2 separate regions of the Homo sapiens genome follow, and region 2 is linked to region 1. Evidence: fine-mapped expression QTL. A gene starts in region 1. The other region holds a variant in brackets. All regions are shown on one strand. Distances are between the middles of the regions.

Region 1 (15,865 bases):
AAAAATATGAAAGAAAGTGTTAATATTGGTCACTGGCAGGTGGTATAGAGTAGATGGGAGATTTACTTTTTGTGATATTCCCAATCATACTTTTTTTATTACTTTCCCATTTAAAAAAGTCAGAAGAGCAAATTCTTAAAATAACTGAAGTACTATTAAAAATCCATAAAGACCCTAAGGGATTCAAATTTTTAAAAACTAACAATTTTTGATATGCTAACAACATATCAATTAAATGCAATTAAATGAACAAGTCACTCTTTTGAAATAAAAATGTCAAAACATAGAATACATACGTTTTGTAATTCCTGATGAATAATAGCTATAATTTAAACACATATGGTAAAAGTTCTTCATGATATGGTAACTGGGGAATAGGTGTAGTGGCCATACCATAGGCTAATGATTTTCTTTCAGACTTTACTGTATGTTGTTATGCTATGTCAAGAAATATGCAGAAACAAGCCTTATTATTGTCCTACTATAGTCCTATATAAGCCTTATAATGGTCCTACTATACTGTGCCATAGACTTGGAGACGGTGCCACACAGCAATATGACCCAAGTGCACGTTTAAGTGTTGGAAAAAGAACCAAGAGACAACCAGCAGCCTTCTCAGTTACAAGGCATTCATTGTTCATTCCTATGACCACCAGAAACAGACAAGCAAAAGGAACCTAAGAAGCACATGCTTATGTATTTGGAGTCACAAAGAAACTCCCTGGCCTAATCACTTGGATAAAGGAGCTAAAAACAGATCTGAGAAAACCAAACTCTGCTTAAAATACTCCCCATGCTCCTTTAAACCAAGAAGGATATTCATTATAAAATAATCAGCATTAAAACAGCTACACAGGATTAAAAATCTAGAAATCAGTTATCTCATTCCATAATCACCATGGGAATCTCTTAACTGCCCTGTGCTTTAGATGCCTCATCATGGAACTCAATATAATAAAACCAGGGCAACTTAGGCATTCTTACTAATTCTGTAGTTAAGCTGTCATAACTGGAACAACAGGATTGGTGTCATTTATTAGTCACTTCAGTTTTTACCCAGAGGAAATATTCTGAGCTCCAATCATATTTTGAAATTGGAGGTTGCAGGGAGGATTGATAATTTCTTCAATCATTTGGAATGAAGCTGAATTTAGGGGACAACCAAATCTAAGACTACTGATTAAAAAGCCTGAAAAATGGAATCTCTATTTTACCAATATGAACTGAAAATGTAGCCAATACGTGTATGATTAGTGCCACCTTAATCATTTGCCACTAATAATACTTGAGAAATTTCTTTCTACTGTTATGTAGCTATGATCACAGCAAGTGACCTGCATATTTATGTACAACCCACATTTTAGTCATAATCTGTCCCTATGAAATATACCAAAACAGATTAGAGTTCACTAAAAAGTGCCTGAACTAAGTGATGAAATTATCAAGACAGCGGAAGAGAACCACTAAGACCCTTGCATCATTCAAGTGGAAATGACAATTCTTATTTGAAAGAAACACTAGCGTTCTTATCTTCCCAAGTTGGGTCAACCGACAGAAGCAAAAACTAGAACTAATTGGTCTTTTCACAATCTTAAGCAGACCATCTGTACTCGGTCTGCAACATTAGCTGCCTGGGTCACATCCTGGCTCCACCATGCATTAGCCTAGTGACCTCAGGCAAGTTATTTATATTCTCTGTGCCTCGGTTTCCTTCTGTGTAAAGTGATAGAGTAGAATGTAATGGCATCTCCCACCTAGGGTTGTTGTCTGGAGTAAATCAGTTTTGATACCAAAGTGTCTAGAACAGTGCCTCCATGAATGTATCCTTCCTTCCTTCCTTCCTTCCTTCCTTCCTTCCTTCCTTCCTTCCTTAGTTCTTTATTTTTCCCTTCCCTTACCTTTTCCTTTTTCTTTTCTTTTGAGACAGGGTCTCGCTGTGTTGCCCAGGAAGAAGCACAGTGGCTCAATCTCGGCTTGCTGCAACCTCCACCTCCTAGGTTCAAGCAATCCACCCACAGTCTCCCAAGTAGCTGGGACTATAGGTGCATGCCATCGTGCCTGGATGATTTTTACATTTCTTGTAGAGATGGAGTTTCACCATGTTGCCCAGGCTGGTCTTGAACTCCTTGGCTTAAGAAATCTGCCCACCTCGGCCCCCCAAAGTGCTAGGATTACAGGCATGAGCCACTGCATCCAGATAAATGTTAGTTTCCTATACTAATATTTTTTGTTGTTGTTGGAAAGAAGAAACTAAACAAATTTCCATTTGAAGATTTTTTAAAATCTTGATTTTGAAAGGTAAAGGTAAAGGAGATAGGAGAAAAAGGAAAAGATTCAAAAGAAATAGCAACTATCATTGTTAGTAGCATTTATGTAAAAGACACTGTGCATACCTTATATCATTTACTTGTAACAATAACTCTTTGAGACAGGTGTTACTATTAGTTATTTGAAGATAAGGCAGCTATGTCTTAGAGGTTTACTGATGTGCCCACAATCACACAGAAGATTTATGCTCTAGTCTATCTGACCCTAAGCTTGTATATTTCTTCCTCCAACTCTGGTTGATGCCCTCCACGCTAAACTACCAGATTGGGAAAATGAGGAAAGGAGGAAAAAGGTGAGGAAAACAGACTAACAGACAGAAGGGGCCTAAGGCATCATCTGCTTTTTCAGCCATAAACCGAAACTTCTATCTGTAGGGATAACATACAACATTTAATATCAAGAGTGTAATGATAAAATATGACATCATTCTTACCACTGGTGCTGAAAAATGTCACTGATACTAGTTTGGAACAGTTTATAAACACAAAGTATATTAGTATTTCTAGTTAAACAATTATGAAAATGCTACTGATTGGACATTAAAATGTGGAGATAAATTCAAGATAATCCCCAAACAATGCAGAAATAAAGTAGTATGCAAAATGTTAGGACCATCCCCCAGCTCATCACTGTTTATGTTTATGTCAACAGAAGCTCCTCTCTTTATTTAAAAATCCATAAAGCGGTTCCCAATTTAGTATGTTACTTTTCAAAACTCTGCCAAACAAAATGCCCAAATCTTTCTGTAATTACATAGCAGTTACTGCCTTGTGCCTGCACAGACTCTGTGAATCCCAACTGTCTTCCCACAAGCAACAGCAGGCTCTCCAAAAGAAAAACTTAATGTTTCATTTGGGGCAAATGTTTTTCCCTGCGCCATGCTTCGGTTTTCACTGTCATGGTACTTGGCCCCACTCTCCCTAATCATAGGTTTAAGGAGGATGAGGTCAGCCTTCCCTCTGTTGCTAAGGCTACTTGCTCATGGTTCCACTGAATTAAGGAGAACCCACTGAAGTACACTACCACTTGTCACAATGCCTCACAGTTCCCTTCATCTCAGCATATTCCCAATTCCCTAAAACTTAGTGCAGGTTTTAGGACACATGAAATAGATATCTTCCTTAGGTCCTTATCACAGGATTGTGATATTTGAAGGAAAACAATTAGCTTGGTGGATTTTGAGATCAGACAGGTAAATGTAAAAAGCTTTCCTTTTTGCTTATACAAAGTATCTCTAAAATATAAATTTTCCTTTGTTCAGACTAATCTGAATAAACTTGATGCTGACTGAGATAACTGCAGACATTCTTCAACAACAGTATCTTCCAGGTCAATTTGATGATACTCATTTCATCTGTATGTGCAGTGCAGATCTGGTCCAGAACTTAAAGTGAGAAAAATTATCACATAACAGGGGAGTCTGAATGTGATCAATAAGCCAGGTCTCTCACTGACCCATCTGGGACAGAAATCAGATGCTCCTCTAGCCTGTGAGTGGATGAATGAGAAGAGTGAGTCTGCACAGAGTGAGTTATTGTGGTCAGATTCAGAGGAAGCTGAATTCTGTGTGGCTCTGTATTCACTGCGGTTCTATTTTACAAAGTTCTGGGTAGCTCACAGCCATTTTTGACATCAGCATGTGCTGGCTTTGCAGAATGGATACTAATCAGTTTGGCATCTTGGAATGTTGCATAGAGCTTGGGAATGAGAAACTAGAGGCAAGCAATCGGTAGAAGCACCTCAAATCTGTAACATCCTAAACTGAGGTACCACCTCCCATCAGAGTGTTATATCTCATAAGCTTCCCAGCCAAATATTCCCCTAGGGCCAGACCAGAAGTCAGCACTTCCAAAGAGATTCTATGGTACAATACAATCTGTTTGGAGACTTGCAGTCATTAGACCTGCCACCCACTTGAACTCCCTGAGAGAAAACTCTGGTTGATGCCCTATTATCTTTTTTTTTTTTTTTGCTTGTTTTTTGCCTTGCTGATCCCTTTTTCTAGAGCCATCCTTCTTTCCCAGGTTTTAGTTGATTTTTACTCTTCCTTCAAAACTGAGTTCAAACTAAGTGTCCACTCATCAAGAAGACATCCATATCCATACAACTGCCCCAATCTGATTTATAAATCATTTGGTTCTTCCCCAAACCCTTTAAAAGCCATTCAGATCACCTTACACTGCCCAGTAAAATGAATCATATTTATCTGTAAAAAAACACACATATCTAAATACACTTTTTTTCAGCCCTGATCTGGCTGGTTCTTATTTTAAAAAATGCATTAGAAGAATATGCTTGTACAGCCTCTCTGTACCTCAGTTCTCTCACCTGTAAAGTGGTATAATAACAGTGCATATCTGATAGGGTCATTTTGAAGCTTAAACCAGAAAATGAATGTGAAGTTCTTAGAAGAACCACGAGCTCTTATTATTATGTGTGGAATTTATAAATAAATGTAATTTTGAGTAAGTCAATCACTTTAAACACATTTCTTCTTCTGGGAAATAGAGATAATTTTATTTCTTCACAGAATGGCAGTAAGAATCAAATGAGTTAACAGTGCATGGAAGTTATTTCCAAAGGTTCTTTACAGCTCCTTTGTGAGCTGAAAAGAACTATTTAGAAACTGGGATTTGTATTATTGTTACCTAAAGAATTACACAATGTTTTAAAGACAGAACCAAAATTTTTCAAAGAAGAGTCTTCAATGACTGACGCAAGCATGGCCTTGCACTTCTTGCTTAACCTGCCAATGCTGGACATAAAAGACAACAGATTTCAAAGGTCTATGCAGAACTGGAATTCTCTCATCTAAGTAAGACACCAGTGTCCATACCATCTGGAACTTACAGGGAACTTAGGATGTACATTGATGCTGGTTGATCCTAATTATATTGCAAAATCTATGGAATTCAAGAGCCATAAAGAATTTTTGAAATCATTTATTCCAACTCCCTCGTTTTATTGATGAGGCAACTGATGCCTATGGATCCCAAGCAACCAGCCCCAAATCACATATCAAACTAGTAATAAACAACTCAAGTCTCCTAATTTGTAGATTATAGGCTTATGTAAATTTTGTTTATATCATGTTTCCTGCCTTTTTAGGGTGGCCTTGGGTTCAAATTCCAGTTTCACCATTTATTAATTCTGTCACTTTAAGTGACTTACTGAACTGATGCAAGTCTGTCTCTTTCTTTGCAAAATAAACATCATAGCATCCTCTTAAAAGTTTACTGTATGATAAAAAGAGGTAATGTCTCTAAATCAGGTAGCAAAGCATGTGCCTGACACCTGCTTCACCACTCACCAACTTCTTATGGTAAATACTGTAACGTTTTAAAAAACTAAATCATGCATAAAGATCAAAACCATATTTTAAAATATCTCTTAAAAAAAACACAACAACTAAGGTAACTGATATGTGTGAATTTCTTTTGGTACCGAAGTGGTTAAAAAAAAATCCTTCCTTCTGGTTTAAAGCCTGGCTGTCCCAGTGCTCTCTTTCCACATAATATGCCCTTCTCCGCCAGGCGGTCACGTATGGCAGGGTATATAGTAAAGCAGTGTACAGCACAGAGCTGTACTATATCACATGTTTGCTTTCGCACCTTTGCACCTCTCCCACCAGGTACTCTGAGGCTGCCAATTCTAGCTGCTGCTTTTACTCCTCTTCCTCTCTTTGCCCAACCGCTGCTTTAAGGATGTGTCTCGCCTGAGAACAGCTCCCTTTATCAACACAAGACAGAAATTGCTCCAGAGTGACCTGGGCTCTGTCTTCCTCAGGGGGCCAGAGTCTTCTTGTCCGAGTACCTACCTGACAGCACATCTCCCCTGGCCAGCATCCACCTCCTTGTCCTCCACAACCCACTCAGCGGCTAACCTGGCCACCAACTAACTTCTCGCCCTCGGATCCTCGCGTTTATAAAAGGTGCGAGACGACCAAGTTCTACAAGGTGGGGCGGGCAGGCACCCGCACTTATCCCCTGGCCCTCCCCGCAGCAGACACAGGGACCAGGTCCAAGCTTCTTTCCTCCGGGGACAAAACTTGGCTGTTTATCTTTCCCAGGGCATCTTCGTCTCTCCCCGGGACGTGGAACCCCGATGCACCGGCAGGGACAGCCCGGAGCGCTCGCAGGAGACCAGGCCCACGGTGGTGCCATGGTTGGGCACACTCCGCGGGCTCCGCCCAATCTCCACCCCTAGGTCCAGGTCCCCCTAGGAGAGCTAGGAGCACATTTCCAGCCTGGAGCAGGAGCCCGGCACCGGAAAGTCAGAGCAGCGCACTGCGGCGCCCCAGCCACTGCGGAGCCCCTGGCCAACCGCAGTTACGTTCCATCTGTCGTATCTACATGGGAATACGGCGACAGGCACCCTATCCCCTCACGTCAGGGCTAGCAGTATGAGGTGGGGAAAGAGGAAACCTCGAGAGTTAAAAGCGAGGGAACTGAAAGTCCCCTTGAGGGGTGTCCCCCATGCCCCTTGTGGGACAAAGCCCCAATTCGCAGGCTACCCTCCAGAGCTCCAGCGGTCCGGTTCTCCCCATCAGCACCCTCTGCGCACACTGACCCGCGCGTCCCTCCGCAGCCTGACCGCCCGATCCGCCAGCCACCGGCGCGGGCAGCGAGGGGGTGTGTGCGCCAGATTTTCCGCGTGCCCCCCCGCCCCTCCAGCGGCTCCCTCGCCCTGCAGCTGCTGCTCCGGGCGCTGTCCGCGCTGGGCAGGCCGCCCCCGCGTCCCGCCGCGGCGGCCCGGGGCCCGTGCGCGCTCACCAGATGGCCATCCTGCTCTTGGGGTAGTCCAGCCGCTCCAGGCAGCCGAGGAAGTGCGGCAGCGTGTGCGCCGCGTTGCGGGCGAGGACCGCCACGAGCACCGTGGGGCTCTGCAGGGGCGACTCCGGGAAAACCACCGGCTCCTCTCCGTCGTCCTCCGAGTCCCGCTCGGCGACGAAGCGCGCTCGGCAGCCTTCGCGGAGCAGGGCTGAGGAGAGGAGCAGTAGCGACCAGGCGAGGGTGGCAGCAGGGCGCGCAGCCATGTTCCGGGCCGAGGCGGGCGGCGGGGAAGTCCTGGCGCGAGCGCCCGGCTGGGCTGCCTGAGGGCGGCGGCGGCTGCCGGGGAGCAAGGGGCTGCGAGGGGCGGCCGGGGGATGCGGCTTGCCGCGGCCGGCCGGCTCACACACTGGCCTCGGCGGCTGCGGTTCCCAGGACCCTCCCGCCGCCGCTGCACCGCCCAGGCCCCAGTGCGGGTGCGCAGCGTACCTGCAGCCGCTGGCGCTCCCCTGCGCCTCGGGCTCGCAGACAGTAGTGGCCGAGGGGCTGTGTGCCCTGAGTCCTGAGGAAAGTTCCTCTAGTCCAGGTTCCGCTCGTACAGCTGAGGTCTGTGGCCTTCCCTAGAGCCGCGAGTTGTGGCCCTGTCTGCCAATGAGCCTGTGAGTGTGTGTGTGTGTGTGTGTGTGTGTGTGTGTGTGTGTACATAACGGTACAACCCCAAGAAAATTTATTCTGCTTTTGCAAACCGCAGACTGAAGCCCTTCACAGTGATGCAATGTATCCAGTTTTCATAATGCACCTATTGACTGAGTAGAGTTCTAAAATGAAAAGTCTCCCCAACTATTCACGATTATGACAAACACTTGTTTAACCACCGCAAAGGCAGCATGTCGCATTTTCTTATATACTCAACTTCTGAAATTCATTCTTGACTGAGTAGACACCTAATAACACAAAGTTTGAAGACTTGGAGAATTTTGGAGCCAGATCAGACCCCGCAAAATAAAAGAAAGCCCTTGGGAGACACTGTCCTGAAGCCTCACTCTACTGTGAACCCAGTAAGCCTCCTCACAGGAGGGCTGTGAAAGAATAAATTCACTTAGCTGGTTTTCTTTTTCCGTAATAAGCCAATATGATAGAGTAACAAAGAGGGAAAATTCGCGCATGTTGGAGAGCAGAGAAGAGATAAGGAAGAAAAGAAGGGGTGAAGGAAGAACACAATTAGCACATAAAATGAAACTGCTGGCATACACTGCTAAAGGAGATTTACTTTTTTTTTTTTTTTTTTTTTGAGACAGGGCCTCACTCTGTTGCCGGGGCTGGAGTGCAGAGGCACGATCACAATTCACTGCAGCCTCGACCTCCTGGGCTCAAGCAATCCTCCCACCTCAGCCTCCCGAGTAGCTGGGACCACAGGTGTCCATCACCACGCCTAGCTAATTTTTTTTTTTTTTTTTTTTTTTGTAGAGACGGGTTTTCACCATTTTGCCCAGGCTGGTCTGGAACTCCTGGGCTCAAGTGATCTGCCCAACTCGGCCTCCCAAAGTGTTACGATTACAGGCATCAGCCACCATGCTCGGCTGGATATTTAGTTTTGAAGATATATTGTGTAGCCTTTGATAGATAAGTATGGAGGGTGTTTTGGTGCCAGTGCACATTCATGATCTCCAATCCCAACTCACCCTCAGGTCTGTCCCATAGTCTTTTTATTAGTTGTTATCAATCCTTCTCAGCAACTATTAGAAGTCTTCCCTACTGTCTTTTGAAGTATATCACCTCCTTCATCCAGCTCCCCCAACACCACTGTCTCCAACTAGCATCCCTACCAAGACCTTTCTTACTTGCAGGTGCCTCCTCACGACAGGGTCTTTGATCACAGACTAGAAAGGGAGAGGTCTCCCTTTCTAGCCCATGATTTTTCTCTATCATTCCACTCTCTACTGAATCTTCAACTGATCTCTATCAACTCCTTTCTCTCAAGCTAAATACTTGGTCAGTCTTCTCTTATCCGTTAAAAAAAAAAGAAAGAAAAGCTTTAAAAAAAAGTCCTGTGTCTTCTTCTAGTCATCCCTTTGCTTGACCAAGCTCCTTGGAAGAGAGATCTATACTTGTATTCTCCACTTCTTCATCTCCCATCTTTCCCACCACAGTGCAGTAAGGCGTCAGCCCTCCCCACTGTTCTGCAAAACCAACAGATGGCCTCAGCATTGGCAGATTCAGTAAACTCTTCCGTTCTCACCTTCCTGGACTTCGATTACATAATCTCCCATCCTAGATCTCCTCTGATACTACTTGTCTCTGAGCCAAGCCCCTTCACTGTGTGCCTCCCTATAGTGTGCTAGTCTTCCCACTCCATATGGTCTCCTGTGGTTATATCCTCAAAATCTATGTCTTCTGCTCTAATCTCTTCTCTAATCTTCATATTTTTTTATCGAATGGCCTACAGACATTTCCTTCCCCTCCATCCATTTTCAGGAATTGTTCCCACTTTCAAGGGGCTCACAGTCTTGTAGGGAAGACTGAGAGTTAAACATCTGTTAGAAGTACTGTAACAGATGTACCAGCTACAGTGAAGGGATAGAGGAAGATGTGGTCATTTCCACAAGGGAGGTAGTGATGGGACTGTTAGAAAGGTCCAGACAATCTCCATGTTGTTCTGTCTTTCTTGTTTCCCTTTCTTGAACTATGTCCCACTCATCTTTCAATACTAAAATCCGCACTCCTTAGCCAAACTTGGTTTGATAGTTATCATTTGTTCACTTTACTGCAAACAGAGGGAGTTTAAAGCTAGGCAACCACATTTCTGTCTTATTTTCCTTCTGTTACTGATATGGTCTGCCTATGTCCTCACCCAAATCTCACATCGAATTATAGCTCCCATAATCCCCACGTGTCGTGGGACGTAATTGAATCATGGGGGCAGGTTTTTCCCATGCTAGTCTCGTGATAGTGAATAAGCCTCACAAGATCTGATGGTTTTATAAAGGGCAGTTCCCCTGCACATGCTCCCTTGCCTGCCGCCATGTAAGGTGTGTCTTTGCTCCTCCTTTGCCTTCTGCCATGATTGTGAGGCCTCCCCAGCTATGTGGAACTGTGAGTCCACTAAACTTCTTTTTCTTTATAAATTACCCAATCTCAGCTATGTCTTTATTCACAGCGTGAGGACAGACTAATACAGTTACCTAAAGTCAACAGCTTATCTGAGTCTATTTTTTCAAAGAAAGGTGAAGCATCTAAACCTGTATGGTCTCTAATGACATTATAATGAAATCGGCTCCATGGAGTTCTCTTAAAATAACTACAACCTGCTCTGCTCTGTAGATGAAATCAAGGGTTTCCCAGCCACATAACCTACAAAACACCTATTTAAAACTTTTAATTGAGTGCTCATTTAGTGACTGAGAATATTAAGGTAATAACAGGGTATGCAACAGTAGAAGATCATTGTAAATATGGTTGGGAGGCAGTGGAGGGGAAGCCTGGGAAAAATTAAGTCCCCATCTTACTAACAGATTTGTTTCATAAGTTCTTCAGAAATCAGTAATGTGAATTTGGATGTTTCCCCCCCGCATAGGATTGATGTTATAAGACAGTTAATTTGAAAAAAAAAACTAATTTAAAAATAAAAGCCAATTATATTTTAAAATATTCATTGCTTATAATGCTCTTTCCATGGAAAATCGGCTGAATGGAAAGTCAGGGTTGTACACACATATCTCTTTGTCTCCACTGCCAGTAGACTGTTCCAATTGATTCTACATAAAGTTAGAAGTAAGCACTTTCTCTCATATCCCCTCCCCATACTGTTCCAGCACAGGGGACTTCCATCTGGGACAACAAAACCTCTTGGACTGTCACCCTTAGTGCAATGTGGTGGGGACAGGGCCTATGAGGTGGCCAGAGGACTTCTTGCAGGAAAGCTTCTCAAGATGTCTGTGGCTCCAGCAGCCCAGAAGAGGAGGAAATAAATGCCTCTGGGGCAGCTGTGATAGGCTTGAAAGAGCAACTGACACTTGGAGCTGAATTTTCATTTCACTGGTGTCACTTATTCTCTTTGTGACCTTGGAAACTTGACCTCTTTGAACATCAATTCCTTCCTAGGTAAAAAAGTTTTAAATGCTTGCCTCATTTTTTCATTCAACAAACATTTATGAAATTGCTAAATGCCAATCATTTGAGTGTTGAATATTTGAATGCTTCTCCCTTGGAAAAACAGGGAGAAAGTGGCCAGCCCCTCGTAAGTCCTGCTGGGCCATAGTTGGCAGAAAGAGTCTCTTGGCTGAATTATCCAGGCTTCTTTCTTCTGTACTGAAATATCTTTCTTTCACTACCTGGTTTGTTTTACTCGCTTTTCTGATCCATCCTAAAATCCTACAATGTAAAATGTACTTGAATTGACAATTCTGCCAATTTCAACATGAAAATCCTTGAGAGAGGAGCATTAGATGATATCTTTTTAATTCAATCAGATTTTTAAATCTTATCACCTAAACTGAAATGGCCTATAAGAAGTTTTGATAAAGGGAACTGAATGGGATCCTAATTTGAAGCATGGGTCTCTTTGGTGACAAAGCAAGTTTTATGGATTTCTGATACGTAGGCCCGAGGACTCTGGGTCCTAGGAAGGGAATTAATATTAAGGGAGAAAAAGAGCAGTGACTGAGGTGGGAAAGGCTAAAATTAAACTACGTCAGTGTCAAAGTTTTGTCTATGCTCTGGCTGCATCCAAGAGCTATAGAATAGTCACTACGGAGGAATGTTTTCCAATTCAAAACAAGTTTATACAAATGTAAACTACACTTCTACGTCTCATTTAAGAATAGATGCATCCCTTAAATTATATTAACTCATTCCTTCAAACACTTGCTCAATGCCTACTCTGTGCCAAGATATAGTTGCTGGAAATGCATGAATAAATAAGATGTGTCATATAAATGCACAAATGCTATAAGTCATTTTATGTCTTATGATGGAAAAAGGAGCATAAGTAAGGAAGTGGGGAAGTGGAGATAGCTAGGAAATGTTTAATTAAAGAGATGTCTTTGAATTGAGCATTGAAAAATAAGTAGCATGCATGGACAGGAAGAATTAATATTTTTAAAATGGCCATACTACCCAAAGCAATTTACAGATTCAATGCTATTCCTAAACTACCATTGAGATTTTTCACAGAACTAGAAAAAAACTATTTTAAAATTCATATGGAACAAAAAAGAGGCTAAATAGTCAAGGCAATCCTAAGCAAAAAGAAAAAAGCTGAAGGCATCACGCTACCCAACTTCAAACTATACTACAGGGCTAGAGTAACCAAAACAGCATGATCCTAGTACAAAAACAGACACATAGACCAATGGAACAGAACAGAGAACCCAGAAATAAGACTGCACACCTACAGCTACCTGATCTTTGACAAACCTGACAATAACAAGCAATGGGGAAAGGATTCTCTATTCAATAAATGGTGCTGGTATAATCGGCTAGCCATACACAGAAGCTTGAAACTGGACCCTTTCCTTACACCAGATACAAAAATTGACTCAAGATGGCTTATAAATGTAAATGTAAAACCCAAAACTCTAAAAACCCTAGAATACAACCTTGGCAATATCATTCAGGACATGAGCACTGGCAACGATTTCATGAAGAAGATGTGAAAAACAATTGCAACAAAAACAAAAATTGACAAATGGGATCTAATTAACTGAGCTCCTGCATAGCAAAAGAAACTATCAATAGAGTAATCAGACAACTTACAGAATGGGAGAAAAATTTTGCAAACTATGCATCTGACAAGGGTCTAATATCCAGTATCTAAAAGGAACTTAAGCAAATTTACAAGAGGGAAAAACCAAACAACTCCATTAAAAAGTGGGCAAAGGACACGAACAGATACTTTTCAAAAGAAGGTATAGATGTGGACAACAATCATATGAAGGAAAGCTCAACATCATTGATTATTGGAGAAGTTCAAGTAAAAACCACAGCGAAGAAGAGGAGGAAATAAATGCCTCTGGGGCAGCTGTGATAGGCTGAGAATTATAGGATAACCACAATGAGATACCATCTCACACCATCGGAATGGCTACTAAAAAGTCAAGAAATAACATGCTGGCAAGGTTGTGGAGAAAAAAAAAACGCTTATACACTGTTGGTGGGAGTGTAAATTAGTTGAACCATTGTAGAAGACAGTGTGGCAATTCCTCAAAGTCCTAAAGACCATCGATCAGGTAATCCCATTACTGGTTATATACCCAAAGGAATATAAATCATTCTATCATAAAGACACATGCACGTGTATGTTCATTGCAGCACTACTCACAATAATGAAGACATGGAATCAACCTAAATGCCCATCAATGATAGACTGGGTAAACAAAATGTGGTGCATACACATCATAGAATACTATGCAGCCATAAAAAAGAATGAGATAATGTCTTTTACAGGGACATGGATGGAGCTGGATGCCATTATCCTTAAGCAAACCAATGCAGGAACAGAAAACCAAATACCACATGTTCTCACTTATAAGTGGGAACTAAATGATGAGAACACATGGACACATAGAGGGGAACAACACAAACTGGGGCGTATTGGAGCATGGAAGGTGGGAGGAGAGAGAGGATCAGGAAAAATAAGTAATGGGTACTAGGTTAAATACCTGGGTAATGAAATACTCTGTATCAAAAACCCCCATGAAACAAGTTTACCTATGTAACAAATCTGCACATGTACTGCTGAACTTAAAAGCTGAAAAAAATATAATTTGATTCGAAATATAAGAAAAGAAAAATGAGTAGCATGGACTAAGAAAAGGAAGACAGAAGGGGAAAGAGATGGGAATTCCAGGTAGATGGAACTGCAGGAGCAAGGAATGAAACAGTATGACACACTTGAGAGATACAATGAACAGGGCATGGCTGGGAGATAGGATGGGAAGTAGTAACAGAGAAAGCTAGAAAATTATACGGTTTTATACAATTTTATATATAATCATTTCTTTAAAATGGGCAAAGGACTTTGAATAAACATTTCTCCAAAGAAGATATACAAATGGCCATAAGCACATGAAAAGTTTCTCAACATCACTAATCCTTAGGAAATGCAATTCAAAACTATAAGATTTATCACTTCACACTCATTAGGATGGCTACTAGAAAAACACAGAAAATAACAAATGTTGGCAAGGGTGTAGAAAAATTGGAACATTGTGCACTGTTGGTGGGAATGTAAAATGGTACAGCTGCTGTGGAAAACAGTATGACAGTTCAAGAAATTAAAAATATAATTACCATATAATCTAACACTTCTACTTCTAGCTATATACCCAAACAAATTGAAAGCAAAGTCTCAAAGAGATATTTGTGCACCCATGTTCACAGTGGCATTATTCACAATAGCTAAAATATGGAAGCAAACCAGGTGCCTATTGATTAGTGAATGGAAAAGCAAAATGTGGTATATACATACAGTGGAATAGTATTCAGTCTCAAGAAGGGAGGAAATTCTGACATATGCTACAACATGTTAACTTTGAGGGCATTATGCTAAGTGAAATAAGCCAATTTTTAAAGGCAAATATTGTATGATTCAACTTATATAAGGTAGTTAGTCAAAATTACAGAGACAAAATAGAATGGTGGTTGCCAAGGGGATGGGGGTAGGGGAAATGGGGAGTTATTGTTTAATGGGTATATGTTTCAGTTTTAAAGATAAAAGAGTCATGGAGATGGATATGAGTAATAGTTGCACAACATTATGAATGTATTTAATACCACTTAAAATAGTAAATTTTTTGTTATATGTATTTTACCACAATAAGAAAATAAGAAAAAGTCAATCCATGTGATTTATTAACAAACTTGAAAAATCATATGATCATCTCAAGAAATGCAGAGAAAGCATTTATGAATCCAACATGAATTCCTCATAAAAATTCTCAGTATATAGGAATAGAAGGGAACTTCCTCAACGTAATAAACAGCATCTACAAAAAGCCCCCAGCTAACATCATCCTTAATGGTGAAAGACTGAGTGTTCCTCCTGTGATCAGAAACAAGATAAGAATGTCAGATCTCATTACGTCTGTTTAATGTTGTACTGGATGTTTTAGATGGGGAGGAGAAGAAGGAAGGAAAGAAGGAAGAAAGGACAGAGAGAGGGAGAAGGAGAGAGGAATAGAAGAAAGCAGGGAGGGACATTTAAGCAAGGTAAATAAGCCGTAAGATATATTTTAACATGAATGTGGAGTGTTGTATTAGCCCTTCTAGGCCAAAGGCTCTAAAATTCAATGATTTATTAAAGTCTATTTTACTATAGAACTTTAAAAAATGTTGAAAATGGGGGAAAAAAAGAAAAAAATCACTCATGATCCACTACTCCACCACAACCATTAACATTTTGGGGTAATTTTAATATGGCATTTTTAATTTGCACATTTTCAATGTGGGTTTGTACTCAGTCCTCTTCAGTGAGACTCAATATCCATGTTGATAGCAGATGTTGACTAAATATCTAGAGATAGACATGGGATATTTTTTGGACCATGGATTGCTTTTGATGTCTTTTCATATTTACAAAGCCAGGCATTATTTAAGGTTGCATATATGCATCTGTTTACTTATAGAAATTGCCTAACTTACTATCACTTTGTACTCTAGATATTAGAAAAATTTTAATAAAAATATTTAATAAACATGAAATATAAACTAACAGATATAATCCATAAACTAATACATTAATTTAAATACTACTAATAAAATGGATATCC
Region 2 (15,865 bases), 71 kb before region 1:
CCACAGTAGATGAAGTTTCTATCTAGTATAGCCTCTGCAATATTGTTCTGGGCTGCAACCCAGGACAAAAACCCTCTTGTTTTCACCTTATAATTACCTTCTCTTTTACATCATCAAGATCTCCTTATATACTGGATCCTTGTGACTGGCATAAAACATACTGTTATATTTCTATTTTTTTAAAAAAACAGTACAAACAACCTAACCAGAAAAACCTTTCCCTTGACCTCTTACCCCCAACAGCCTCCATCGGATTTCTCCATTTCCCCATCCCATCAAGATTCAGCTTTCTCATCTCCCCATTGGCTTCTCTTCAGTCCACTTGAATGGATTTGTGTTCTCATCATTGCACTGAAGTGGCCCATGTCAAGGTCATCACAGACCTCTCTCTTGACAGAACCAATGACCAATTCTTTATCCTTATTTTCCTTGGCTTCTCAGCAGCATCTTGGCTCCGTCTTGAAACACTTCTCAATTTTTCCTCCTAGCTCTCTGGCTGTTTTGTCTTCCCCAGGGATCTGTCCTCTTCTCATCCTGTGTTCTTTTACTACATGAGTTCAGACTGTTCCACAGCTTCAAATATCCTTCTGATGCTGATGATTCTCAAATATCTGTCTCTAGCTGGAGTTTCTTCCCTGAACTCCAGACTTATATATCCAACTATCTTCTGCCTTTCTATTTAGATGCCTATTAAATATCTTAAACTTACGTGACCAAAACTAGCTCCCCAACCCCCAGTCTTTTTCTATAAAGTCTTTCCCATCTCAGTAAATGGCATATCAGGCTAAAATCTTGGACTCATCTTGATTCCTTTCTTTCCTTCATGGACTGCATTCAGGTCTCTGTAAGTCCTGTTGCTCCACCACCAAAATATATCCTCAACCTGTCTGTTTCTCATCAACTCCTTGCTAGAGCTCACATCCCAATCACCATCATGTCCCACCAGGAGAGAGGTACTGGTCCCCTACAATCTAGTATCCTCACCACAGCCCAAATGATCCTTCTAAATGCACAAGTCACTTCAGGCCATGCCCCCTCTGCCCCACCCCATCTTCCACGGATTCCCATTACTCTTGGAGTAAAATCTAAATTCCTTACCATGGCCAGAATGTTCGGTGTGATCTGGACATTTCTTCTTCCATTACTTCATCTCCCTTGACCCAACTCATTCTTTATGCCCCAATCATGCTGGCCTTTTGTCCCTGGAACACCCCCAAGCTTTTCCTGTCTAACAGTCTTTACATGTGCTGTTCTTTCCACTTGAGACATTCTTCACCCAAATATTCATATGGCTGCTTCCCAGATATATTGTCTATTGTCTAACTCTCTGTGTTAGAATATAAGTTCCCTGATGGCAGGGCTTCTGCCTGTTTTGTTCACTGCTTTATGCCCAGCATCTTGAACAATCTGCGGGGTACAGTATGTGTTGAATAAATCCTTACAGCCTGATTATCTCTTCTAACACCTTCATTGGCTCCTTAAGATAGGAATTCTTCTTTAGCTGAAGAAGAATTCAAGGACTACAACAATGAAGCCACTCCACCCTCTCGAACTTTATTTCTGCCTACTGTTTTAAGTCAGCTCTCCTTCAGCATGAGAATACTTCGTCTTTTCTTGGTCTGTTTCCTCTGCCTGTAGTGTCCTCACCATACCACTCTTCTTGTTTAAATTTTACACTTGTACCCAAGCTTAGCCTAAGAACGATTAGGACTTGAGGCTCTCCTGGATCACACAGGCCATAGCAATCTCTCTCTATCCCAAATTCCTATTTCTTTGATATTTTCTCCTTTCTCAAAATGCTATACTGTGTTGTTAGTGTTTTTTTAACATCTGTCTGTTTCTCCTATTAAATCATACATACCTGAAAACAGAGAATTGATCATAAAATGTTTTGAATCCCTAGTACCTTCAGAGAAGACGCATACATTACAGGCATTCTATGTTTGCTCATGAACAAAATGCATATACTAATGCAAGCTTGTTCAACCATGGCCCGCAGGCCACATGTGGCCCAGGATTGCTCTGAATGTGACCCAATACAAATTTGTAAACTTTCTTAAAACGCTATGTGATTCTTTTTGTGATTTTTTTTTTAGCTCATCAGCTATTGTTGTGTTAGTATATTTTATGTGTGGCCCAAGACAATCTTTCTTCTTCCAGTGTGGCCCAGGGAAGTCAAAATATTGGACACCCCGTTCCTATTCTTCAATCAGTATAGTCTAACAACACTATTAGCAGCCATTTATTTACTGCTTATTGGGTTCTAGGCACTATGCAAAGTGTTTTTAACACCTAGTTAATCTTTTATTAGAGAAGGATACTTGACTGATAGGATTTTGTCATTACCAACTTTTTATCAATCTTACACGGACTTCTAGGCCATATTTCTTCATTATACACCTCAAAATTTTATTTTTCCAACATTTTCTTACTCCTATTGTGTTCTATATTTTTAGAATTCAGGACAGAAGGTAAGTATAAGAATGAAATAAAATGCGATATGTAAAGTGCTTAGCACTAGAGGTGGCATGTGTTGGGAGATCAATGATGAAAGCTATAATTTACAGGTTCTTCTCAAATGAACTCTACCTGGCTAGCATGGTAGTGTGCATATTTGTAATTTACAATCATTAAAATCTTTATTGATGACACGTGCATTTCTGTGTACTGAGAGCTTATACTCTCAGCCCTGTGGGAGAAAACAAGAGAACATAAGGTCTGGCTGGCCTCTCTCTGAGGCCAGAGAGACTCTCCCTACTTGGGAGTCGAGACCGAGAGCCATGAAACAGGGATAATAAGGGACAGCACTTTATCGAGAGGTAAATGGAGTCATAATAATAGCAACACCTCATTATTTTATGGAGTTGATATAGTCTTTTATTTGCTCTTCTCAACATTGCAAAATCACTCTATAGATGAAGAAACTGAAGTCCTGAAATCTGATTCTCCCTTCAAAAGCGACAGTGTCTAAGTTCAAGCCCATTATTCTCGCTTTGGGTTCAGTGCCCTTGTCAATACAGTTTTCATTCATTCATTTGCTCATTTGTTCATGCATTCAGCAGATTTTTTTTGGTAACAACTACATGCCACGCACTGTGCTAGGTGCTTGGAATACAAAGCAATAAGATGCCACCCATATCCTTTAGGGCCTAGAACATAGGGAAAGTGGCAGAAAAAGTATGTATTAAAGAAATTCGCAAAGGAGATTCCTGAGGGCTGGTTCAAGAAATACTGTCACAGTGAACCAGCTCCTTATTTCATCATTTCATCATCATTCATTCAGTCATTTAACAAATATTTGCTGGGCATCTACCACGTGACAGACAATGTGCTAGGTCCTGAGACTAATATGATGAAAAAGGAATTTATAGTGTAGGAGCAAGGGAGTGGGAAGCAGATACTCATAGACAACTCAATGGATCTAAAAATAAACTCATGGTCTCTGTTTTCTTTTCTTTTCTTTTTCTCTTTCTTTTTTTTTTTTTTTTTTTTTTTGAGATGGAGTCTCACTCTGTCACTCAGGCTGGAGTGCAATGGCGCGATCTTGGCTCACTGCAACCTCTGCCTCCTGGGTTCAAGCAATTCTCCTGCCTCAGCCTTCCGAGTAACTGGGACTACAGATGTGCACTACCATGCCCAGCTTATTTTTGTATTTTTAGTAGAGACAGGTTTCACCATGTTGGCCAGGCTGATCTTGAACTCCTGACCTCAGGTGATCCACCTGCCTCAGCCTCCTAAAGTGCTGGGATTACAGCCATGAGCCACCATGCCAGCCATGGTCTCTCTTTTCAAACCTCTCCTTTATGCTACATGCCCTATTCCATTTAAAGTTCCTAAAATCACCCCCAGACACTCAAGACAGAACTTGGGAGTTTTCTCTATGCCTCCCTTTTGCTCATCTACCTACAATCAACTCTTGGCTATGTCCTTTCAAGCCTATGTCCTAAGCTTCTGTTCCTTCCTCTCCATTCCCACTGTTACTGCTCTAGCTCAGGTCCTCACCACCTTTTGCCCAGTAGCCGTGAAATGTCCAAAGTGGTCTCTTCACCCCTGGCCTGAGACCAGCAGCCACTGCCCATGCATCCCATGCATGCTCCACCTACACTTTTCTTACCTGTAGAGTGACCTTTCTAAATCCAAATTCAACCTGACATTTCTGTGCTAAAATCTTTTTGAGCGTGCCTGTCCTTTCAGCTGAAGCCCAAATGCCTTCTTATACATCAGAGCCTCTTGGCGGGGCTCCTGCCCACTTTCTAGCCTCAGTTTCTGCTGTTCCTCCCTAACCACCTCCACTGCCCACGTTCACACCCCCGTGCTCTACTGATGAATAACAGAAAATAGTCCCTGCTTTGGGAAGCCATTTCAACATCTTCCCCTAGGTTAGGTGGATTGGTTACTTTCTCTTTTAGCCACCATTGTACATCACACATAATAAAAAGCATAGCTACTGATGACTGAGCACAGCAATTCATGCATCATGCCAGACCCAGAGGCAATAACAATAGTGTTTAAGGACATGAACTTTGGAGATAGCAAGATGGGTTCAAATCCCAATCTGTCATTTGTTTAGCAGAATGATCTAGGGCAAGTTACTTAAGGTAACATCTCATTGTTTTTCATCTTTAATATGGGCATAATAAAAACCCTTCATTGAATTGTTGCAAGGATTAATGAAACAACAATGAAACAGTTTTGTACACTTTAATGTACAAAAAGTGCTTAGCATTTTATGATGTAACAGTGATATCTGTTACATCATGAGCTATTATTAAGTTAAAGTCATAACTACTGTGGCTGTATTAGCCTTTTTACATATACCATAATGAATCTGCCCAAAAACCCTGGAAGTTTTCATTATTTCCATTTTACAACTAAGGATATTACTTGCTCAAAGTCATATAATTAGAAAGCAGCCAAGTTAGGGTTTAAGTCCACACCACAAAACACTATTATAGCACTTATCAGATCTTTTGGAAAGTATTTACTTGTGTACCCAGCGCTCTTCCAGGATGGGAAGCTCCCACATGGCAAAGACCTTGTCATATTCATATTTCCCATAGGAAAAATTTAGGAAAGAATGAACAAATAAATAGCTATGTATTCAGCCAGGGGAGACTGATGGCTGTGAGATTCCAATCCTGGAAGAGGAGGGAAGTGGCTGGTATGGTCACTGTGGCAATGGAACGAGAGCCATCCCCTCTGCTCCTGGGTCACTCACTCATTGCTTCAATCTGCACATGGATGAGGTTCTCGATGTCTTCCTGCAGTGTCTGATGGGGCTTCAGGGGGATGGGCAGGTAGCCATAGTGCTCTCTGTTGCAGAGGTACATCTGGATGCCTGAGGATCCAAGAGAGGGACAAAGCCAACAATCAGAAAACATACTGCTGAGTGACAAGCGAGGAGAAGGAACCTGAACTGTGTCTGATGCTGAGTTTGACACTGCAATTAAATAAGTGGTTGTTTCAGGTATGTCTATAGACCTAAAAAATGCTCCTTTATTAAAAAAGTAAAACACAGCATTGGGGACTAATAAAAACACTCGGCTATTCTTCAGCCCAGAGGAAATTGATTTTTTCCCTCTGAAGAAAAAGCAAACTCATGGCCTGGAATGAACAAAAAAGGCATGAAAGGATCAAAAGGGAGGCAAGGAATTCCCATTCTGGAGAGCAGAATGGAACACTGTAATCCACCTACAGGAAATAACAAGAAAATGAGGAATGAAATCCACATTTGATATGAAAGCAAACAGGAAAATTCTGTAACGCTGACAGATTATTAAAGCTAAATCTAGGCATACATAGAACAAAAAAACGAAAAAACGAAGGAAATTTAAAATTCTCCAAGATTCTCCCTGGTTTTATTGCTTCCCTTAGCAGGCATGGATTTGGAGCCAACCAACAGACATGAAACTTCCAAAATCAGTTCATATAGAGACAAAAGAGTCTGCATTTCAGAATGTCCTGTTAAGAACCTGTAGTGTGACAATACCAGAAGTATGCAATACCCTTCTCATATTCAAATTGTTCTTCATAGCCCCACCTGATAACTTGCAGAGTTATAAGGCATCTGTGTTTAACCAGACAGCTAGAAATATAGGAATCAGGATGGTCTCATACACATCATTGGTCAGCAATTGACACTCCTGATCAATGATAAGACTGCTTAGTGAAAAGGATGAGTCCGCCATGTATCCAAGCCTCTGGTCCATGTATCCAAGCCTGTGATTTGTTAATTGCGATAATTGTCAGTGTTTTCCAGAGAGATAATTATCTGCATAGGGACTCCTCTATTTTGTGCAGATGAAATTTCCTCCAGTCAGCTACATCATCTGTCAAATCAGGTGAAGCTGTCTCATGGCATTAACAGAGAGGAAGGAGAAAAGAAAATAACCTTTATTCCCTGCTTTTACTGAATCTGGCTTGAATCAAGGCTGGTCTACCAAGCACTGTCCCTTCTCTTGCCTTCACCGAGCAAACTCATTAGCTCTGCTGTTTGCCCATATGAATGCTTCTGGGGAGCTTCAAAGTGCACCTTCTTGTAAAGTCATGATGAATTCAGGAAGTGGAAGGAAAAATATATTAAAGTTGCATCTCTACCCTAATTAGGCAAACCATTTTACCATTTAACTTTCTGAGGCTTCCATAAAAAAATGATATGATACCTATCCAAATTATCCATCAAGTGTGAGGGTACAAGGAAGGCATTTTTAGACATGCAAGACCATAATATATTTACTTGCCATCATACTTTCTCAGAAAGCTGCTGGATGATGTGAGAGAAGGACGAGGAGGAAAGGAAGGAAGAGGAGGAGGAGGAAGAAGAGGAGGACGATTATAACCAACAAGAAAGATTATAAACAACATGAACAGGAGAGTCAGTGTATAAGAGAAGAGAAATAAGTCTTAGGTTGATAGCTTCAGCACCACTTGGATTAGAATATATTAGAAAGCTCCAGAACAGACGTCTTCGCAAATATGCAAAAAAGGACATCTGACAAATCTGGACATTCTGAGAGGAGTTTGAGGTAATTAGTGATTAGTTTTGGATCATACTAGTAATAATAAAACTAAGCAAAAAAGGCAATTATTAAAGGAATTGCCTCCAAAGAATGGCAAAGGAAAACTAATCATAGCCTATGAATGACCAAGCTTGGAGTTAGGCTTGCATGATTACAACAAGAACACTGACCATCAATCTGTTTGAAATTACAATGGGAGAACAGGGTGATGAGAAGAATGTGTTTGCATGCAGAGGGCAAAAAGGAAGAAAAAGAGCTAACTCCTCACAGTCTATAGTGGAGAGTCAACAAATAATGCCCACGGTGAAGCCAGAAAATCAAGAAGTAGCAATGCATGCATATTATTTAACATGGAAGTAAATATTAGAGATAAAAGTGGTTGCCTTCTGGAGGACAGAAGTGATGCAGGGTGATGTGCAGGGGACTGTTCATTTCTTAATAAACCATGGGGAACTATATGAATACTTTCAACCATGTGCATGGGCAGTTTGATAACAGAAAATTTAAAAGAAAATGTATTAATAATTAGATAAAGTCTATGAAAGAGTCTGCACTCCCAGTGAATGCTGCTTCTGGGGAAGACAATTTTTCTTTTGAAAAAGAGAAGTGAATTACGCTACATTTTGAAGGACTGTTTTTCTTTTAAACATATTAAACATTTTCTTGTACTCATATAGTACCTTAACATTGCAGATTGATGTAATTATCCCTATCTTTGGTGATGAAAAATCAGATTCAGGCTGTCACTTGTCCAAGGTCACATAGTAAGTCATTAGTGCCAAATCTTTGTCCCTAAAGAGCCAATGCCAAGTGCTTTCTACCCAGTCAGTAATTGGAAGCTCAGTTCCAAGACCATTAGTCACTAGGGGATTGCCATCCCTCCACAAGGGGACAAATTTGATCACTACCAGTGGTG[T/A]TCAGGATCTGTCTGCCCATTGCCCATATCACTCACCTCTTTTGACTCACATCAGACATTTGGAAGACGACTGGCTGGCACTGGGATGATTCCTGTGGCCATGATACAGAACCCAGATCACTGGCCACAATGGGAGGTGAACTCTTGACCCTGGACTCATTACAGGAACAGAGACGCGCCTATGACCATATGTGCTCTCTTCTTGGGCTAGAAGGGTGGCCAAGCCCTGCTCACCAGCACACTTGGATTGCTCCTCACTCATCACCCACATGGGGCAATGGCTAGAGTCTGGGGTGAAAGATTTAGGACCAAGGTTTGTGGTTGGATGGTCCTGCCTGGGACATAGATGATACACAGCTAGGGAGCTTCAGAAGAGTGAGAACAAAAGAATACCAATCATATTTCATGAAGAAAGAGGAAAGTGCTTTGCTTTGAAACTAAGGAAGGAAGAGCCTGGAGACATGCCCTGGGCTGCACATGACTCCCAGGCTCATTCATGTTTCTCTTGAAAATACTTAGAGATAAGTACAATATTACCTTAAAATCCACAGTTGTCAAGAAAGACCTTTCATTTCCCCAAAATGACAGTGAATCTTTCCTGCCTTGACTCCTGCCCTGTTCATGGTCTGCACCGCCAGTCTGGCCCTTAGCTTTCACTGCTTCATGACTATTAGTTGTGTTTTCACATGTAAAAATCTTAACTCCCAACTAACACCGTGCCAGGAACAGAAGGAAACACTTGGGAGTTCATCCTCTCTCTTTCCTTTTCTATCTCCTCTTCCCAAATGAGTCACCAAACAACTTTGGGTGTCTACCTGCTTTCAATGTTCTAAAAAAGCCTTTTCAAAGTCTGACCAATAACACACAAAATCCTGGTGAACAGGCCAAGCACAGGGCAGAGCTGAAAAATTCCTGCTTAACCTGAATCATTTTTCCCATACCAATATCCAGGTATTGGTTTCATACAATGTATCATAATAATTTAGTTCATTGCATCATAATAATGCTTTGTGCAGTGACTATAAAGGAGGACTCTGTTAGGCAGTGTCATTCGTGTAATTGTTAATATCTCACTTTCTTGGAACATCCTAACTTCAACCTCTGAAGGAAAGGGATTGGCACTCAAAGGACTCAAAAAGCCCTGACTTTGCTTCCCATCCTGGGGAAGTCAGAGCAAATCACAGACCAACTGAAAGAAGGAGTTTCCATTAACACTGACATAGGAATCTTTACAAAAATCTTCCAATCATATGAGGATTGCTTTTGCCTAGACATAAGGGCTACAAAATGCCTACACCTGGCCAAAGGGTCTAAATTGCTCCAGCAGCCAAGGGGGAAATCAGCCTGACCCATTTCTACCAAATATTCTTATTCTCAGCAAATCTACAACTGATGAGTGGGACATCTATGGCTTTAAGGAGAGTCTGATGTGTGAATTGTAGCTTGAATTTGTATTAACATTCTCATCTGCCAGCCACTTCCTCAGCTGCCGGAGGATCTTTGCACCATCTTTTCCACCCTCAGTTATATGGCCACAGTGAGTTTATTCACCATCTTCTTGGTTTATGAACGTATTTTTGCTAGTGGTTAAGTGACACATTTCTGGCACATTAATAATGGGACCCAACTTCTGTCAGGAAAGTCTGAATTATCCTAACAAAGCTTTGCTCTGTTAGATGCCATGTGTCTTGCTGTTGAACTGCTCTTGTGAATTTTGTCCTCCTGAAGCAAGTGTAGGGTGAAATGAGAGAAATAACTTTCCTTCCTGTTGACTTGTCTTTCTCAAAAATCTCCAGGCCCCACTAGAAATGCTTTCCCAGTGGTTCATAAAAGACCTCAGTCTCGCTTTGCCTCTCCTTCCACAGGGACTGAGGCTGAGACTGTTCGGTGCCTCTTTATCTGTTCTTTCCTTCTTCTAGAGTGTGAAAATTGCAGTGCATGCATGCAGAGAATAAAGACGACATTCTGAGCCTCCCTTACAGTGAGGTATTGTCCTGTGACTAAGCTCTAGCTAACAGGATTTGCATGGAAGTACTGCATTCAACTTCTGGATTGCACACTTCAAGGGACAGGGAGAGTTCTCCCTGTTGTTTCTGCCTTGCTGGCTGAAACGCATCCATGGTGGTGAGACACCTGGGACTCCACAATTAAGGGCAGTACCTCGTGGAGTGTGAGAAGCAATACACAAGAAGCCTGGGACTCTGAACACTTTGTGGAACAAAGCCACTACAGCAGCTCAGACTTTTTCAAGAAGAAATAAACTTCCATTTTTAAAGTCTGGGGTCTTTGCCAGTGTTGTTTTAGGCCTCTGTGACAGTTTCCTAATTAATAAATGAACTTCTATAATAAACAATTGCAATGCAGTAGCACCACAGAGAAGCAATCACCTTCCCATAATTCCCAATATCACCACCAGTCCCTCCAACTCAAAATAGAGTGGGTTCCTGGGTAGAGGCCAGCCCTGGCTCTTGGTCATTGGTGCTCCCAGGGACAGCAACATAGAGGGTGCTGGTATGGTTATTGCAGACAATTTACTGCCTCTCACTACCAGACATATGAGGGTTTTTTTTTTTAATAAAATGCACAAAACAAAGGAGCTGGTCATTTTGCTGTGTCTCCATTGTGGCACTACAACCAAAGACAAACAGTACCTGCTTGCCTGCTGGAGAAGGCAAAGACAATGATGTCATCAAAGGTCCAGGTGTAGTCCTGGTGTGGGGGGTAGAAAGTCAGCTTGTCCGAGGCCTCCTTCCTGAGGTCAATTAGGAAGGTGGAGTGGACCATGGGGACGGGGAAGCAGCCTGTCCTCTTCCATTCTCGAATCTGAACGTAGTCTGGGGTCCTCTTATAGAAGCCCTGTAAAAGAGCAAATAGGTGGGTTGTGTTTTCTGATTTGAAGTCTTCATCCTTCTCAGTCATTTGCTAGACTGATTCCTTTCAAGTCATTACCAGCTATATACAAGCTCCCAAACAAAGCCACCTTCACTCCTCTTATCATGGCCTATGAATTTCCAAGTGAGCACAAGAAATGCTGTCTACATATAAAATAATACTAAAAGGGTCTTGATATAAGAAGTAACTTTTATTTCAGCATATCTCTAGATTTAATAATTTCATAAAAGTGTATTTTATGTTGACTTATGATTAAATATGAAGCATGAGTATTAAGAAGTGGCAGAGCAGTTAAGGGCACAGGTTCCAGTGTCAGACTCCCTGAGTTCAAATCCTACCTCAGCTACTTATTGTCTGTAGGTATGGGTCAAGTGACTCAACCTTGCTGCGCTTATTTCCTCATCTCTAAAACAGGGATGACGGCACTATCTACTCCATGGGGTTAGCTGTAAAATTTAAGTAAGGTAGAACCTGAATAGTGTTGAGACTACTGCCCAGCACCAAGAATGTATCAGCAAATACCGGCTCCTATTAAAATGACATTACACTGTGGCTAATATTTGTAATTAAACATGCATTACTTAGATATACAAATGAGGGTCTTCTTTCAATGCAGTTACTTAGTCAATATTCTGGTGAAGCTGCAGCTGCTCCATAGTTTTTGGGGATTCAGCTTCTGAAACGTCCTTCTGCACAAGCACACAGGACAACCAATTTCCTTATTCCAAAGCTTGAATCATTTCCAGAAAAGATGAAGATATATCTCAACAAAACATGCTTACAAAACATACTTGTGGAAGCTTTGCCAGGCATTTTGGAAAATGTTCTAGGTGATGGCAGGCTCACTGGAATGAGTGTTAAGTTTTGCAAAGCCAGCACTCCGAAGGGCACCATACTCTGGAAGTTCTTATGTGTTCATTAATCAGTTGCATCACTTCATGGTTACATTTCCTGTTGTAATTCAGCATCCACACATAAGGTGCTACAGCCTCACCTACTTCTCTGACATTCCCTTCAGGTTCTAGAAGAGTGTCCTAGCTGAGCTAACCCTAATGCCGACCCCATGATAAGGGAGGAGGATCAAAAATGAGGACTCAGAAGATGTGGGTCTCAGAGTCATCTTAATCACCTTCTAGCCGTTTGATCTTAGTCCATGCCTACCCTCTTTGAGCCTGAGTTTTTTCTCCTGAAAAATGGGATAACAGCTGCTCTGTCAATCTCATAGAGCTGCAGAATGAATCACATGTGATAAGGTCTATGAACCTATTTTGGGAACTGCAATTCATTATATGAAGTATTATCATTACTATAATGTTTTTATTAGCCTTTAACTTAAGGATCATTTAACATCCTCTATGGTTTTCCTAATACTTCAGCTTATGAGCAGTCTTCCAAGAGATAAAGGGGACTCGGGTTTTTTAAAGGGCTGCCTAAGTACTTGCGTCTAATATAAAGTTCTAGATTACTTAGGAACAATATTCCCAGAATGATTAGCTTGGAAAATCCATGATGATGATGAATCACTGAATATCCTTGGGGTGGGGGTGAGAAGGAAGGAAGCAGGGAGAGTGAGGGAGAATAAATGTGCCTCCTGCAAAGAGGCAGAGATGATGAATGTGTTCCTTTTTCCACATAAATTGAATCTTGTTGGTAATAATTCCTGTTCATTGGCCAGACAACATCAAGGACATTTTGTTTTGAATGAGTTTAAAGGCTCTGGGAACCAGGTCCTGCTTTGAATTTATGAAGTCACTGGCCCTTTCTATTCCTGCTCTAGTAGAGACTAACTGGGATGGTAGAAAGCCAAAAATAAATGGAGGAAAATAATACTTGTCCCTAAGTTGCTCAGAATTTAGTTTTACTGTACAAAACAAGTGAGCACATTTCTCCTATTTGCTTTTAAGCCTGAAAGTAAATAAGGAGATAATACAAATTTGTAGGCTGCGGCCACTAGGATAACCCACCCTTGTTGCTGATGTCAAAGCACAACTCATTAAAAACAACCCTCAAGTGATTCTGCCATGTGAAACACTGAAAATGTATGAATTTAAACCAATATAATGTTTTCTCCCAAGGAAGTGAATGGCTGTTAGAAATATGAACATATTACCTTCCCAAAAGAGACACAGAAAATAGCACGCATTCAAAATCTCTTACAGCTAGAAGAAATAATTACAACAAAAGAGGAATGCTTCATCCAGTGGTGTACTGGACCACACATTGTTAAATTTTCAGAAAGTTTGCAAACCAGTTGACATGTTGATAGCTTGGAATCCATAAAAACAAAAATCACGTTAATCCCCACCACTCTAATGACACCTCATGTGGCAGTTTTACATGTTTTTAATAGCTGTATCATCAAGTGGCTATACTGCAGTTTACTTAACCTTTCCCTTAGCTTAACAACATTTAAGCTGTTTGCATGGTGGGAGTATTTAAACCATAAAAATTGGCAATGCTACCAACTAGGGTTTTTCCCACAAAGAGCCAGTTATTAAACATTTATCAGCACACTACTGACCTTATTTCTCATCCAAAACAAAACCAAATATAAAGGGGAGACTCAAACTTTAGCCCTTTGGCCATGAGAATACATTGAACATACTCCCTCTTTTTTTGAGACAGGGTCTCAGTTGCTTAGGCTGCAGTGCAGTGGTGTGATCATAGCTCACTGCAGCCTCAACTTCTTGGGCTCAAGCAATACTCCCTGCTCAGCCTCCCGAATAGATGGAACTATAGGTGTGCACGACACCACAACTGGTTAATTTTTTGATTTGTTGTAGAGATGTGGTTTCGCCATGTTGCTCATGTTGGTCTCAAACTCCTGGGTTCAAGTAATTGTCCTACCTCAGCTTCCCAAAGTGTTGAAATTACAGGCATGAGACACTGCTCCTGGCCAACATATTTTGCTTAGCACATTTTTATCCTACATTGATACATATTACATTAATCAGTTGAATTTATCTAATTCTTTAATTAAAGAATAAAAAATATAACCAGCCATGAGCATTCACTAAAACAGACCACTATTTTGAAGATTTTACTATGAAAAAAAGAAATAATAAAAAATCAAACCTTTTTTAACTTGAATTTTATAAAAATAACCTACCATGGTAGTTTTCATTATTAGAACTCTTTGGAAATAAATTTGGCAACATACATCGAAGGTCATTGAAATATTTGTACTTTTTTTTTTTTTTTCTTTTTTGAGAGGGAGTCTCGCTCTGTCACCCAGGCTGGAGCGCAGTGGCGCGACCTCGGCTCACTGCAAGCTCCGCCTCCCAAGTTCACGCCATTCTCCTGCCTCAGCCTTCCGAGTAGCTGGGACTATAGGCGCCCAACACCACGCCTGGCTAATTTTTTATATTTTTAGTAGAGATGAGGTTTCACCATGTTAGCCAGGATGGTCTCAATCTCCTGACCTTGTAATCCGCCCGCCTTGGCCTCCCAAAGTGCTGGGATCACAGGTGTGAGCCACCGCGCCTGGCATATTTGTACTGTTTGACTCAGTAATTCCACTTCTAAAAAGCTATCCTAAGGATATAATCTTAAATGCTGAAAAATTATATTAATCATGACGGTCACGATAGTTAAAAAGTTGTGAATAATTTAAATGTTTTTCAAACCGAGATAAAGGTTAAGTAAATTGGAACATAGCCACTTGATGATAACACAGTTACTAAAAACGTGCAAGTTTCTATCTATGATGTTGTTACGGTGATGGGGATTTAACATCTGTCTTGTTGGTTTTCTTTTAAACTTTTTTTAATTTCTAAGTTTTTCTATAGTGTTCTTATGTTAGTTTTGTAAGGACAAAAAGAATTAATTAAAAATAGTAATTCCTGAATCAGGAATTGGCTAATTTGACGTTTCTAAGGCTAAGCTCTTTAGACTATTTTTTTCATAATAAATTAACACAGAAGAGCCCAACTGGGTGTAGCATTGGACCCAGATTTACTGCCCTTCCTAAAAAATGCTTGCTCTGGGAACACAATGACACGCATGTTTCAAGGGAGTAAACAAGAGAAAGGTGAATGGGACTACTGTTGACCGGGTGTTGCCTTGTTAAAACTAGTAGCCTTAATTCATTTAAGCAAAAGACTTGCCTTAGGGGTGATTCCGCACCAGAAATTAGAATACAGGCCCCGAGACTCCAGCATGGGGGCCACAATAGTTTTGTTTTCTGCAATCAGTAGATTGAGGGTCTGTGGATTAGTCAGGAAATTGTCAACATCTATGAACTAGGAAAAGAAAAGGATAATGTTAGGTGAAAAGGTACTTTTCAGTAATGAGTTTGAGAATAACCCAGCCCTTCTGAAGGATCCCAGAAACTTGCTCATGACATATGGAACCAGCTATCTATGTCCTCCTTATTGAAACCCATTGCAGCTAGGTGGCTTTCATTCAGTCAAAATATATTTAGTCTAACTTTCGTATGTTGGGCTCTGCATAAGGCACTAAGCAGTAAATTGGTGCTGCCATACTGGGCATAGCCTCAACCAGGAACCAACCTACACTTTGGCTAGTGTTTTAGGCACAAGATATTAATGGCTCCCAAGCCATTAAAGGTTCATTCAAAAACACTTATTGGCTGCCCAGTCTAGGTACAGATGGGCATGCCTACTTAGCTTTTCTATAGTAATGCCAGAGTAGCTCAAAACAGATCTATCAATGAATTTTAATGTGACAAGTAGAATTTTTGTTTAAGTACATTATATCAACCCATGCTAACCAGTGAAGCTATTTCCTATTCTTAGAAGTCCATGTTAACAGTGATTTATTTAGAGACAGTATAACAACAGATTCTAATTTATAAAAGAAATAATCATACTGAACTATACACTGAAAAAGGGATAAACTGACAGATTTTACCTTTTGTAGGTTTTATCACAATAAAAAATTCAGAAGTCTTCATTTTTATGATAGTCCATCTGTTTACCCCAAATTTTGTGATTTAACATTTGTACACTTCAATGGCATTTAAACAGCTACACAATGTTAAATATTGTCAGTACAATTTGAAAACTTCTATGAAAGG

The links. PIP is the estimated chance that this variant, and not a neighbour inherited with it, causes the effect.
Region 2: its variant is fine-mapped to the expression of COLGALT2 in whole blood (TOPMed, PIP 0.99).

The regions. Positions count from the first base shown.
Region 1 is chr1:184,029,995-184,045,859 of GRCh38, forward strand. COLGALT2 (collagen beta(1-O)galactosyltransferase 2) reads right to left here and starts at 7,734. Exons shown (of 12, transcript NM_015101.4): 1 at 7,101-7,734. The coding sequence starts at 7,363. RefSeq lists silencers at 1,421-1,715, 7,457-7,546.
Region 2 is chr1:183,958,683-183,974,547 of GRCh38, forward strand. COLGALT2 (collagen beta(1-O)galactosyltransferase 2) reads right to left here. Exons shown (of 12, transcript NM_015101.4): 4 at 14,934-15,068; 5 at 10,587-10,791; 6 at 5,219-5,338. Among named protein-coding and RNA genes, the nearest start is that of COLGALT2, 71 kb to the right of the region's middle. The variant T/A (reference allele first, on the strand shown) is at 7,936.